Linked DNA regions of Homo sapiens: all the other regions are linked to region 3. The links come from fine-mapping of genetic effects on gene expression. A gene starts in region 3. Each other region holds a variant in brackets. All regions are shown on one strand. Distances are from middle to middle. Region 1 has its middle 2.9 kb from the start of MTOR. Region 2 overlaps MTOR (mechanistic target of rapamycin kinase). Region 3 holds the start of EXOSC10 (exosome component 10).

Region 1 (2,761 bases), 170 kb after region 3:
CGAGACTCCATCTCAAAAAAAAAAAAAAAAAAAAAAAAAGATGCATTCATAATAAGAAAAATACATAGCCATTAATAATTATAATTTAGAGCCTAGCATGGTGGCTCATCCCTGGAATCCCAGCACTTTGGGAGGCCGAGGCAGGATTGCTTGAGGCCAGGAGTTCCAGACCAGCCTGAGCAACATAGTGAGACCCTTGTCTCTACAAAAGAAATTTAAAAATTAGCTGTGTGTGGTAGCACATGCCTGTAGTCCCAGCTACTTGGAAGGCTGAGGCACGAGAATCACTTGAGTCTATGACTTCAAGGTTGCAGTCATCTGTGATCTCCACTGCACTGCAGCCTGGGCAGCAGAGAAAGATCCTGTCTCAAATAATAATAATAACAATAAATAGTGGTAATTAGATGAATATTTGCTAAGAAGGAAAAGGTTCACAACTAGTTTAAAAATTACAAGTTGTGCAACAATGTAAGTATAATACAACCATTTACAAAAATATTTATGCATTTCTTATATGTCTCTGTTTACATGGGGGAAATGTGCACAACTAAGATGTAATTTGGGAAAGACACACTTTTTTTCTTTATACATTATCAATTACTTATGTAATAAAAACAAGTGAAGGTAGAAGAAATGAGTTTTCAGAAGGTCTAAACTGCCAAATTAAAGATAGTTGGGCTGGGTGCGGTGGCTCACACCTGTAATCCCAGCACTTTGGGAGGCCAAAGCAGGAAGATTGCATGAGCCCAGGCATTTGAGACCAGCCTGGGCAACATAGTGAGACTCCATCTCAAATAAATAAATAAATAAACAAATAAAGATGTCAATATTCCGTGGCTAACAAAATGCTTTGTTTGGCAGGGTTTTTGTTGTTGTTGTTGTTATTGTTAATATCTATGATATTGGCCAGGCACAGTGACCCAACACTTTGGGAGGCTGAGGCAGGTGGATTGTTTGAGCCCACCTGGGCAACATGGTGAAACCTCATCTCTACAAAAAATGCAAAAAATTAGTTGGTGTGGTGGCATGCACCTGTGGTCCCAGCTACTTAAGAGGTTGAGGTGGGAGGATCACTTGAGCCCAGGAGGTCAAGGCTGCAGTGAGCTGTGATCTCACCACTGCACCACTGCATTCCATCCTGAGTTGACAGAGTGAGACACTGTCTCAAAAAAAAAAAATTATATATATATATATATAAATATATATATATATATAATTGCTCCTTTTTTTTGAGACAGAATCTTACTCTGTCACCCAGGCTGGAGTGCAGGGGAGCCATCTCACCTCACTGCAACCTCTGCCTCCCAGGTTTAAGCGATTCT[C/T]TTGCCTCAGCCTCTCGAGTAATAATGGCTACTTTAGATTTAGCCTCTTTTCATTGCTCCTGTGAGATAAGTATTCCTCTAAATTTTACATTTTCACTGATGTTCAATTTTTTTTTTTTTTTTTTTTTTTAGATGGAGTCTCGTTCTGGTACCCAGGCAGGAGTGCAGTGGCGCAATCTCGGCTCACTACAACCACCGCCTCCTGGGTTCAAGTGATTCTCGTGCCTCAGCCTCCTGAGTAGCTGGGATTACAGGCACCTGCCACCACACCCAGCTAATTTTTGTATTTTTAGTAGAGACAGGGTTTCGCCATGTTGGCCAGGCTGGTCTTGAACTCCTGACCTCAGGTGATCCGCCTGCTTCAGCCTCCCAAAGTGCTGGGATTACAGGCGTGAGCCATTGTGCCTGGCCCAACATCTATATTTTTATCATTAAAAGCTTCTAATATGCAATATAGTCGCTATTCAAATCTCAAAATAAACAAGTTACATTTATCATGAAAAGTCTTGCTCCACCCTTGCCCCTTGACTATGTATTTTCTCAGTTTCTTATGCATCCCTAGATTTTCTGTCTGCAAAAACAAGCAAATATATACGTATGTATATTCCTTTTTTTTTTTTTTTTTTTTTTTGAGACAGAGTCTCACTCTGTCGCCCAGGCTGGAGTGCAGTGGCATGATCTTGGCTCACTGCAACCTCTGCCTCCCAGGTTAAAGTGATTCTCCTGCCTCAGCTTCCCCAATAGCTGGGATTACATGTCTGTGCCATCATGCGTGGCTAATTTTTTTATTTTTAGTAGAGACAAGGTTTCACCACATTGGCCAAGCTGGTCTCAAACTCCTGACCTCAGTTGATCCGCTTGCCTCAGCCTCCCAAAATGCTAGGATTACAGGCACGAGCCACCATGCCCAGCCCATACATATATTTTTATTTTCCCCTTTTGTTATACTATACGCACTATTTTGCATTTTTAAAATTTTACTGCATCTTGTAGATCTTTCTCTTGTAGTTCCAACAGGATTCTATGCCTGCTGCACAGCAACAGTTGACCAATGCAATGAGACAGCAGAGTCTGCAGCAGAGAAAGAGTTTAGTGATCGCAGGGCAGCCAACTGAGGAGATGGGAGTGTTACCAGCGCTGAATTTACATGGTCTGCAGCAAGCTCAGTTCTTGCCTCCTCAGAAGAAAGAATTCAACTGAGGGGCATAAGGCAGAGTGAGAGACTGAGGCAAGTTTTAGAACAGGAGCGAAGTTTATTAAAGAGCTTTAGAGCAGGAATGAAAGGAAGTAAAGGACACTTGGAAGAGAACCAAGCAGTTGACCTGAGAGATCAAGTGCGCTGTTTGACCTTGACTCGGGGTTGGCATACTTCCAGGGTCTTGCATCCCTTCTCCCCTGATTCTTCCCTTGGGGTGGGCTGTCCACATGCATGGTGGCCT
Region 2 (2,761 bases), 75 kb after region 3:
ACAACAAGGTCTGGTTCTGTTATCCAAGGTGGGGTGCAATGGTGCGATCTCAGGCCACTGCAACCTCCACCCCCTGGACTCACGCAATCCTCCCACCTCAGCCTCTCAAAGGCCTACACCACCACACACATTATTATTTTTTTTTTGTATTTTTAGTAGAAATGAAGTTTTGCCGTGTTGCCCAGGCTGGTCTCGAACTCCTGAGCTCAAGTGATCTGCCTGTCTCAGCCTCCCAAATTGTTAGGATTACAGGCATGAGCCACCACGCCCAGCCACACCTACTCTCTTGATTGTTCAAAGAATAAAGAGATTTTTAGTGAACCAGCTGCTATCAGCCTGTGTATTTATTTCCTCTTCCCCCTTTTTCACTTTAATTTCCTACAGGACTTTCTCCCTAAGCTACATTTCTCTTATTTCCTTCTGAGGAGTTCCCATGCACGCCTCTAAAGCTGCTGGAGAATACTAATTATGGATGTGGATGCTCTGGACAGTGAAGTCAGCAGGCTTATTAATCCTGGTGATCAAGAGAGTCTGTTATCTTGTTTGGGATCTTAATTTTTTCTTCTTCCTCCATGCCTTCTGGCACTCCATCACGGGAGGCAACAAGAAGAAGATACAAGAAGAAGATACCAAAATAAGAAGAGAGCTCACCATATGTGCCAGGCACTGCGCTTATTGTTTCTATGTATTATTTCGACCCTGTGAAACTATTATTAATATTCTCATTTTATATATGAAGAAAACACAGCCCAGTAGGTCACAGGCTATTGCCTTCCCTTAAAAGGTGACTTTCTCTTAAAAATGTTACCACGGAAAAGTATCTTTAGTGCCATGTTGAGGTAAAGAGAAAAAAGTATCTTAAGTAATAATGAAGGGTATACTGCAAGCTCTGCAATGGGAGGGACAGGCGGTGTCTTAGCTTTCTCCTCTTGGCATCAGTAGGCACCCAGGAATTAGCTGTAAAATGAACGAGTGTGAGCAATGGGTGGGATGTTTCCATTAACTCTCTCTCTAGAACTCATTGTGCAGGAGAAGGGAGCCCTCCTGTGCCTTCATTTTAACTTCCTCACTAACATTCCTCTCTTACTCCCAAGCTCCCATCTCACATTTTTTATTTCCTTCCAGAAGCTACTAATATGCCTCCAGCCTTCCACGTGACAAGTCAGCATGCCATCACAGCAGGCTTTTCAAAGACAGCCAGGCTTATAGTTCAGGCTGCAAAGTGCAGGACAAGCAAGTCTCTGTGAAAATGCAGGAGTTCACAGCCACTAAGTCCCAGATCTCCTGCCTACCTGGGTGATACAAAGCCGTCCTTTGAATTATGTCCCTTTTCTAATGAGATGTGGTTTTTATGAGACTGAAGGCAGAGACTGTATGTTCGGCTCCTGTGAAGAAATCACCTTTGCTCAAAAGCCCCCTTAGCGAGGAACTCTTGTTTTACGGG[G/A]CAGCTGGGAGTTTTATAAAGCCCATTCTATAAACACCCCCTTGGGTGCCCCTCAGTCTTTCCCTATTAATGCTGCAGGCTTATAAAGGGCAAACTGTTCAAAGCTCCAGCCCAACAGAAGAGGAGTACGTAACACCACAAACCAGACCCTGCTGATGCTGGTCTGGTGGAAAAGATCTGAACACAAACAAGTTTAAAGAAACTGAGGCTTGTCAGCAACGTGCCTATAACAGTGTGCAGAAATGACAGGTCAATCAGATTTCCCATCTCCTCTTGACGCCTACTGAGGCCAAAAGGAAAAGAGAACTGAGTCCCAAGAATTTTCTAAACTAGTGATTCCCACTGCCTCCCTAACATGGGTGTGGGGTATGTTGGTATTCTACTCCAGTTTCCAGTTATAACATCCAGTTGCTATCATACAGTTGTGAATCTGTAGAACAAACAGAAACTGCCTATCCGCATAATAGAATCCAGAGCCCACAAACTGAACCTGGCGTTAGGAAGACAACGAAGACAGGCGGAAAGGAGAACATGGTGAATCTGGGTATCAGGGGCAGAAGGAGGCCGCTGTACAGACATATTCATTCTCATTCATTCTCCACTCTCCCCACCCCAGCCCAAGATTGAATTCTGATTAAAGGAGGCTGAATTGCAGAGCCTCCTTTCATCAAATTCGAGTTTTGAATTGAGCTGGGAAAGTTCTTGGCAATCAAGGAAAACATTTTCTAGAGCTGAGCAGAACTAATACTAAGAAATTGCCTTGCTGCCTTCCTATAGCAAACATCACACCATTACGCTGAACATCTTATCCCCACTATCCAGAAACCTTGTTCCCAAGGCAGGGCAAGCATGCGAGCTGAGCAGCGGGTGGTTCAGCTGTGCAGACACTTCCCCCGGCAAAGGCCCTGTCAGGAGTGACGGTAGAGCAGCTCACGTGGGCAGTGGCGCCTGCTGCCTCCCCATAGCCCTTTCCTCTCAGGCTCTCCCTAGCAGGTTTTTTTTTTTTTTTTGAGACAGGGTCTCACTCTGTCACCCAGACTGGAGTGCAGTGGCGCAATCTCGGCTCACCGCAACCTCTGCCTCCCAGGCTCAAGGATTCTCATGCCTCAGTCTCTCCAGTAGCTGGGATTACAGGTGCGCGCCACTACTGCCCAGCTAATTTTTCTATTTTTAGTAGTAGAGATGTGTTTTCACCATGTTGGCCAGGCTGGTCTTGAACTCCTGACCTCAAATGATCTAACCGCCTCAGCCTCCCAAAGTGCTGGGATTACAGGCATGAGCCACTGTGCCCAGCCCCCTCACTGCCTTTTATTGGAG
Region 3 (2,761 bases):
TATAACAGCTACTATCTAAAACTGGATTTGTGTTTATTGTTCAGTTAGTGTCAAGTGGTTCTCTATTTTAACTGTTGTGAGGTAACGAAAAAAAGCCGTGAAGTGACATAAATGATGGCTGATCATGTGAAGGCCTAAAACGTCATTGTGAGTTTTGTGAATAAACATTTCCCAAGAAAAAAGCAGAGAAAGGAGGTGGGAAATTAAGTCACGGAGGGGAACATGGTAGCTTATGAGCATGACCGCCACACAACCAGGACCACAGTTAGTGGTCCAGGAACTATTGAGAGCCATGTTAATGAATCAATAGCATTAGCTAACAGCAAATTAGATAAGATACAACGTTAGTGGAATTTCTGTAAATTTATAGGGTTAATTTACAAATTATTTTAGTTTCATTGCTTTGTAAGAGCTATGCACACCTTAAGCCTAGTTGTACGTTTGCTCATATTTAAGCTAAGTTATACAAAGATCTTAAGTGAACGCCCTGTATACCTTCCAGGAGTTACTAATAAACGTGCAATGGGGCTTTAACAGGTGACATTTAACTCAGGGTTAAAAATTATGTAGGACTGGACTTCAGAAACAGAGGAAGAGAAGGGCCATACTGGCCGCGGGAGGAGACAACTCCAGGCAAGTGTGGGGAGCGCGAAGAAGCCGAGCCCCTGCGGAGAGCTGGTCGGGTGGCTAGGGCGTGGCGAGCGCGACGTCGCAAGGGCTAGGGACGTCTGGGTGGCAAGGAAGCCTTTCCCAGGATGCGAGACGGCTTTCCACATTTGGGCCTCCATGGACTTAGGCTCGCAAGCGGGACGCCCCTCAGTGTCCGTTTCCGAGGCCCCATCCCCGGAGGGTGCAGGAGAGTCTGCGCCCAGCGCGGACAGGGGCCCCGCGACCCTCGCTCGGGCTCCACTACGGCGGGCGGGCATTGGCTGCCCAGAGGGCCCAGTCGGCTTCCGGCGGCCGCGGGCGACTCCTGGTACCCCCGAGGCCCCGCGAACTCACCTTCACAAAGCTGTCGGCGTCCGGGAAGCCTGGCAGCACCATCTCTCCGTCGGATTTGGTTGCGCTGGTCGCCGACAGGACCCTGGGCTCCCGGGTACTGGGTGGCGCCATTTTTTCAGCCTGCACGGCTCGTCTCGCGAGAGCTTGTCGGCCGAGGAGACGGGACGCGTGCGCACCACGCATGCGCCAGGTCGAAGCGGCGGGCGGGGCGTCTGATTATAGTGTGGGGAGCCTGCGATTGGGGTGGGGCGCCTGCGATTAGGTTGGGAAGCCTGCGTTTAGGGTGGGGCACCTGCGATTAGGTTGGGAAGCCTGCGATTAGGTTGGGAAGCCTGCGATTAGGGTGGCACTTTCGAGCGCTCTGGTGTGAATTTCACGTTCTTTTACCTCATATTGTATCATCCCAACAACCCTGTGATCTAGGGTGCGGCCTGGAGGACCTGACTATCACATATATTTTTGACACGAGGTTTGCCCAATCTGGTTTCGAACTCTTGGGCTCAAGAGATCCTCCCACCTTAGCCTGCGAAGTAGCAGGGACCCCAGGCGAGGGCCACGATCCCCGCTTATCCTCGTGTTTATTTAAAAATTTAAAAAACAAACAAACCGGGATTACCGGGAGTGGTGGTGCGCATCTGTAGTCCCAGCTGCTCGGGAGGCTGAGGTGGGATGGTTGCTTGAGCCGAGGAGGTGGAGGCTCCACTGCACTCCAGCCGGGGTGACAGGATGAAACCCTGTCTCAAAAATTTCTTTTTAAGGTTATGTTTTTGAGGCTGGGCGCCGTGACTCACACCTGTAATCCCAGCACTTTAGGAGGCCGAGGCGGGTGGATCACCTGAGGTCGGGAGTTGGAGACCAGCCTGGCCAACATGGTGAAACTCTGTCTATACTAAAAACACAAAAATTAGTCGGGCGTGGTGGCACATGCCTGTAATCCCAGCTACTCGGGAGGCTGAGGCTTGAGCCCGGGAGGTGGAGGTTACAGTGAGCCGAGATCGAACCACTGCATTCCAGCCTGGGCAACAGAGTGAGACCTTGTCACAAACAAACAAAAAAAACCATGTTTTTGGGACAAAGTTTCACTCTTGCTCTCCCAAAGTGCTGGGATTACAGATACGAGTCATCAGCGTGCAGCCTATTTTTATTTTTATTTTTTTTGAGATGGAGTCTCACTCTGTTGCCCAGGCTGGAGTGCAGTGACGCAATCTTGGCTCACTGCAACCTCCCGCCTCCCGGGTTCAACGAATTCTCTTGCCTCAGCCTCCCGAGTAGCTGGGATTACAGGCGTGCACCACCACGCTCGGCTAATTTTTTTCGTATTTTTAGTAGAAACGGGGTTTCACCATATTGGCCAGGCTGGTCTCGAACTCCTCACCTTGTGATCCTCCCGCCTCGACCTCCCAGAGTGCTGGGATTACAGGCGGAGCCACCGTGCCTGCCCTGTTTATTTTTTTTTTTTGAGACAGAGTCTCACTCTGCTGCCCAGGCTGGAGTGCAGTGGTGCAATCTCAGCTCACTGCAACCTCCGCTTCCTAGGTTCAAGTAGCTGGGATTACAGGCGTGTGCCACAATGCCCGGCTAATTTTTTTTTTTTTTTTGTATTTTTAGTAGAGATGGGGTTTCACCATGTTGGCCAGGCTGGTCTTGAACTCCTGACCTCAAGTGATCCACCTGCTTTGGCCTCCCGAAGTGCTGGGATTACAGGTGTGCGCCACCAGCGCCTGGCTTATTTTTTTTAGACTGCATCTTACCAACCTGG

Evidence for each region. PIP is the estimated chance that this variant, and not a neighbour inherited with it, causes the effect.
Region 1: its variant is fine-mapped to the expression of EXOSC10 in whole blood (TOPMed, PIP above 0.99).
Region 2: its variant is fine-mapped to the expression of EXOSC10 in whole blood (TOPMed, PIP above 0.99).

What each region holds. Positions count from the first base shown.
Region 1 is chr1:11,264,072-11,266,832 of GRCh38, forward strand. No RefSeq gene overlaps it. Among named protein-coding and RNA genes, the nearest start is that of MTOR, 2.9 kb to the left of the region's middle. The variant C/T (reference allele first, on the strand shown) is at 1,323.
Region 2 is chr1:11,173,309-11,176,069 of GRCh38, forward strand. All of the region lies in intron 28 of MTOR (mechanistic target of rapamycin kinase), which reads right to left. Among named protein-coding and RNA genes, the nearest start is that of ANGPTL7, 15 kb to the right of the region's middle. The variant G/A (reference allele first, on the strand shown) is at 1,445.
Region 3 is chr1:11,098,719-11,101,479 of GRCh38, forward strand. EXOSC10 (exosome component 10) reads right to left here and starts at 1,151. Exons shown (of 25, transcript NM_001001998.3): 1 at 1,003-1,151. The coding sequence starts at 1,113. EXOSC10-AS1 (EXOSC10 antisense RNA 1) reads left to right here and starts at 957. Exons shown (of 2, transcript NR_135062.1): 1 at 957-1,096. RefSeq lists enhancers at 317-879, 531-590, 880-1,440 and a silencer at 492-693.